Linked DNA regions of Homo sapiens: region 2 is linked to region 1. Evidence: fine-mapped expression QTL. Tissue or cell type: prefrontal cortex. Region 1 holds a variant in brackets; the other region holds the start of a gene. All regions are shown on one strand. Distances are from middle to middle.

Evidence for each region. PIP is the estimated chance that this variant, and not a neighbour inherited with it, causes the effect.
Region 2: LINC03000 starts here. The variant in region 1 is the best candidate, but not a certain one, in a credible set for the expression of LINC03000 in prefrontal cortex (CommonMind, PIP 0.87).

The regions. Positions count from the first base shown.
Region 1 is chr5:164,251,908-164,254,836 of GRCh38, reverse strand. No RefSeq gene overlaps it. Among named protein-coding and RNA genes, the nearest start is that of LINC03000, 43 kb to the left of the region's middle. The variant C/G (reference allele first, on the strand shown) is at 1,234.
Region 2 is chr5:164,295,402-164,298,330 of GRCh38, reverse strand. It overlaps LINC03000 (long intergenic non-protein coding RNA 3000), which reads right to left and starts at 1,626. Exons shown (of 5, transcript XR_001742489.2): 1 at 1,135-1,626.

The DNA of each region.
Region 1 (2,929 bases):
CTATACCTGGTCTCTTCCTTTACACCTGGGGATTATATGGATTACAATTCAAGATGAGATTTTGGGTGGGGACACAGCCAAACCATATCACACATATTGTGCTAGTTTTTCCAGATAATGGTAGAAGTCTAAATGGACTGTAGGGCAACACAAAATCAAGCTCCAGACCTGGCCAGGCGCAGAGAGACTCACCTGAGCAGGGCAAAGCCATGTGCACTGAGACCTGTGGCATCTAATTCTTTTCTGGGGGCCACCTCTGTGTGTCCCTGGCACTTACAGTGTGCACATGTGTGTGGCCGCTATCTGGCCATCCATATAATTCACTGTGCCTAAAACACTGCAAATAGTCAACTCGTGTTAATTTCTCTTCTTTGTTTTTGAAGGAGAATATATTTTCTGTATCTTTAGTTTCTTTAACTCAACACATATTTACTGCTTATTTACAACCTGTGTAGTGTGAAGGGTTGGGAATGCTGTATTTTCTGGGGAAGGACTGGGCTCTTAGAATACAGACAAGGGAGGGGTCTTTGTACTGTAATTCCTTGTCCTTAATTTTCTAAGTGAATGGATAAGAGGAAAAGGAAAAATCTGTTCAGTGAGACCTGGCTTTATTTTGGTTGGTGTGTCTCCATTGTGCCATCTGACTTTGACAATGACAGTTAAAGGTACCTATCTTCCTATGAACTTGTATCATCTATTCTTCATCATCACTGGTATCATCACAATGAGAAAAAAATAAGGTCTAGAGGAGATGTCTGTCAATCAGTTTTCAAGTTCATCTCTGTTGTAGCAGTGAGCAGACCTTCTCTTCCTGTCAATCGCCTTTTGTAACCTGAAGAAAAGGGAAAGTTACTGACTGACACCAAGGAGAATTTCTTTACATTCCATTCTCAGTATCCAAGGGACTCTGGGATTTGAGACCATAAAATTAGTGTCAATTTGAGGCCTTTCTGAGAGAAGAAGGAAAAAAAATGGAGATTACCTGAATTCATCTTCCACGGGGCCCATTGCTAACATCCAATCATAGCGGCTGTCAGTCACAGAGAAGGGCATATATTTCAATGACTGGGTATCTCTTTAATTATAGAAATGAATAATCGGGCTCCCCCAGCTCTCTTCTTAACAGCTACAGCCCATGAAATGAAAGGTTTGAACTTGAAGGATCAACACAAACAGAATTTGCAGCAATTTCTATTACTGGTTTCTTTTCTTATTGTCTGAACACAGTATTTC[C/G]TTACTGACAGAGGAAATGAATGAGGTCTGGAAACGTTTTTTCTAAGCTTCAGTGGTATTTAACGGCATTCCCTTCACCTTCTCAGGCTTTGTGGTTGTGAACAGCATCAGAAATTGATGATCTTTTCTTTAAAGATACAAATTGCTTTAAAAATCTTCTCCAAACTGTAAAAAAGTAGAGAACATTTAAGTTTTTGAGTTATCATAGAATTAGCAAACATTGTTATCATACTCACTTTGAATCAAATAAATATTTTTCATCCTATTGTTGATGATTCCTACATTATTTAGTGGTAATTTTGGGGAGACATATATCCAGAATAGTTAAGATTGAAAGAAATTGATTTTCATACTTTGTATTCTTTAGTTTTTCCCTGGGGAGTATAAAGAGGTTAATCCAGTGTTTTACACTTAAAAATTACTCTGTTGGCCCCGGGCGCAGTGGTTCACGCGTGTAATCCCAGCACTTTGGGAGGGCAAGGCGGGCAGATCACTTGAGGTCAGGGGTTCAAGACCAGCCTGGCCAACATGGTGAAACTCTGTCTCTACTAAAAACACAAAAATTAGCCGGGCGTTTTGGCGGGCGCCTGTAATCCCAGCTACTCGTGCGGCTGAGGCAGGAGAATTGCTTGAACCTGGGAGGCAGACGTTGCAGTGAGCTGAGATCATGCCACTGCACTGCAGCCTGGGAGACAGAATGAGAGTCAGTCTCAAAAAAATATATTACTCTGTTACTGTCATGATGACTTTTCTGCTATGATAGCATTGCTCCAGTTAGTAATTTACTGAGCACCTACTATGCACAACAGTGTGAAGAATATGAGAGTTGATCATGCTTTACCTAAAGAAATTAGTGGCCAGTATGAAAATAAATACAATGAAACATTTATAAAAGTAATGAGTATACTGAGAGGGACAGAGATAAAGCCCTTTGGAAGTTTAGAAGCCTGAGAAATAAATGCCTCTGGATAAAATCATGGAAGACTTCCTGGGCGCAAATTGGCATTTATACAGGCTCTTTGGATGTTAAGTACAATTTCACAAGTAAATAATCAGTGAAGGAAAAGTGGAGTGAGAAAAAAGTGTTACAGTGAAACAAGATGTATAAATTGTACAAGATGTGTAAATTGTATAAGAATGACAGTAAAAGTATTCACCAACAGAGATCCAGCATGTATTGTCAGAGCTTTTAATTTCAGGATAAGTAGTTGGTGGAACTTTTGGTTTATTTTATTTATATTTAACTTTTATTTTCACTTCAGGGCTACATGTGCACGTTTGTTATATAAGTAAATTTCATGTCGTGGGAGTTTGTTATACAGATTATTTCGTCACATAGGTAAGGCATAGTACCTGATAAGTAGGTTTTTGATCCTCACCCTCCTCAAACCCTCCTCTCTCAAGTAGACTCTGGTTTCTGTTGTTCCCTTTATTGTACTCAGGTGTACTCAATGTTTAACTCCCACTTATAAGTGAGAAAAAGTAGTATTTGATTTCTGTTCCTGTCTTAGTTCACTTAGGATAATGGCCTCCAGCTCCATCCATGTTGCTGCAAAGGACATGATCTCATTCTTTTTTATGGCTGCATAGTATTCCATGGTGTATATGTACCACATTTTCTTTATCCAAAAATGATAGATGCTGGTGAGGTTGCACAGAAAAGGAATGCTTATACACTGCTGGTAGGAATGTAAAT
Region 2 (2,929 bases), 43 kb before region 1:
CTTATATAAAATACGGTTAATAGAAAGAACACCTCAGACACACATGGATAGAAAAATATATATATTAGATCGGGTAAATTTAAGCAAAAATGTCAAGGAAAGAAGACTTTATTATTAAATCTTCCTAGCTTTTAGCTTTGATCACAGACAACAATGTAATTTTACTTCCAAGTCATTGGGACCCTGAATGGGACAGCAGAATCAATCCAAGTTACAAGTGACTAATACTATGAGATGCTCTTATCAAAACAGAGCAGAGGAAAATTGTACAAGCCTCTTGATAATATTACTCCTATATCTCTATAGACATTCAACACATTATTAATATGTTTCTGTGATTACAGTTTTCCCAGCTATATCAACAACTCCGAGTGACCTCACCTGAAAGCTAATTTTATTTTGTAAAAACTGACAAGTGAAGATGGAGACCAGTTATAAAAACAAAGGTAATTTTGTAATTTTTATGTAAAGCAAACTCGAGACTCAATGATATCATACAGCATGTGAATTATCACCATCCTTGCATTTTCTCTTAGTCTTACAAATATTTCACATGTTCATGCTACCTATTGATGATATATGTATGTACACAAGATAACACCTTCTCAGTAAAGGCTAGAACAGCACATCTTTCTGACTGAGTAGATTACACCACATGGTAATGATGTGATCAAACTCCACAAGTTATGTGCCTCATCATTAGTTTCCCCAAACTATGAGGTTTAAAAAAAAAAAAAAAGCCACTAAACATATACACAGCACAGCACTGTAGCAAGAGAATAATTTTGGCTTATCCAAATGATAGTGAATAATTCAGTACATTTAGAAAAAAAAAATATATATATATATTATGAAATGCATCCCAGATCCCAGTTTAAGTTCAAGTTCCCAACTGTGAACTCAGAGCTCATGGAAATACAATTATGTAGATTCCTCTTAGCAAAGATTTAGTAGTGGTTCCTTCATTTAACAGCAGTTTTTTCTTAGTGAAATTATTTACTTGAAGAGAGGCTAATATGAAGGGAAAAAGGCAGTTCAACATAGACCAGGCACAATATAAAAAAAGTATTCATAGTTTAAAGTGTGTTAAAGTGTAATGATGTCACAAATAGACAAATCTTAACTGCGTCTTACCTGTAGTAGCAGAGTGTCTTGATACTGTTGAGTGTCGAAAAGATGCAAGTCTCTAAATTAGAAAACAAGGGGCTGTTTGCGCTCCCAGTTTCAGCACAGCCAGTGTTCTATGCGTAAGTAATAAATTGCCTCGTCAAAGTCGTCCCAGCCACGGTGTTCATAGGCAATAGTTAGAATCACTGCCCGAAGTCTTGCTTGATGCTGCTCCCACAGCCTCTGCCTTTGCACAGAGACCTAATGTAGGAGTGAGCCGGAGAACATCCTCTTCGCCCCCCTCTCTCCCCCTCCCTTTTGCGTGGTCTTTCTTCCTCTGTAGCTCACTCTCTCTCACGAATGGAGAGTTATCCTTTGGTTCATTCGGCAGTCAAAGAGGACAGGCTGGCAGGCAACAGTGCAGCTGCCCCCATGCTGAGGCACATGAATGTGTTGTGAATAAAGACAAAGCCCTGAACCAGTGCAGCACGTTACTCCCTGGAAAAGCGCTGCAATGATACTCTGCACTGCAACTCCTCAGGCAGGCAGGCAGGCAGGCAGGCAGGCAGAGCGGTGGACTGAATTTCCCTCGCTTTCCCTCCTAGGAACGTACATTATAAAGTTTGGCTCAGGACCTTGCTTCTCCTCTAAGGGACCACATTTTCTGTGGGTAAAAAATGTTTTATTAAATGTCTGGACACCCTGAACAAAACTATTTTAGATAGTTTTCTACTCTGCTAAACTTGGAGAACCTACCTCATTCCCAAGCTGTCGCCAAAGTAACTGAATTTTCTAACTTTGGAAGATAAAGATCAGGTATGTTAGGCCCCAGAAAAATGTTTTCATGGTAGGGGAAGATGAATTTCTCTAGTCTCAGTATTCCTGAGGGACTGAGTAGGGAGGGTTGGGGAGAGGTGAGCAAACAAACAAAAAGCATCCATATCTCACAGGTGCCAAAAATAGAAACTGAGATAAACTAAAGTGAAACTGATGAACGAGTCTGAAAGAAGGTAAGTGCAAAGAATTGAACAGAGTGAATTAATGGTACTCACTGGTTTCCTATAGCTATCATTCAGTTTTGATAACAAAAAATCATCCTACTTATATACATCATGTTTTGCTGTGGCTTTTGCAAGTATTAATAGACAAATAAACGTAGGCTAATATATACCACATATTTAAGAAAGATTTAGCAGATAATGGCCTACAGGTATTTGCATAAAGAGAGTCAGAAGTTGTTTTCATGCTAACAAAACTACAGGTGGTTACTAAACTATGGATACAGAACTTTGAGATGCACACTCTCAAATACTGGTCCTAATCAATGTATACTGTAACGATGAGACTTTTAAAGCACAATCATATAATGTAGGCAACAGTATTTGGTAAAATAATTAAGTATAAGTTAGGATGAGACTTTTCCATGAATGCCAAAACACCTGAAGTAAATAGTTGCTAGACTAAAATATAACTTTATTTCTATCCCTGATGAAAATGAAGTCTGCAGCTAAGTGTTCCAGGGCTAGATATGAGCTCCATGATATCAGGAACTAGGCTCCTTGTTGCTCCACCATTAGCAACACACTCCAAGATAGTATCTCAAGCTTTAGCCACTAAATTGGTATTCAAACTTCAGGAGCTGAGAAGAATGAGGACAATATGTTCCCTATTTAAGGACATACCTTGGAAGTTGAACATGACATGTTTTTGACTAGAAATTAACCATATGGCCAGAGCTTACTGCAAATGAGACTGGAAGACTGGAAAATAGAGTGTCTATGTGAAATGGCCATGTATATGGCTAAAAACCTGAAGAGCCTTT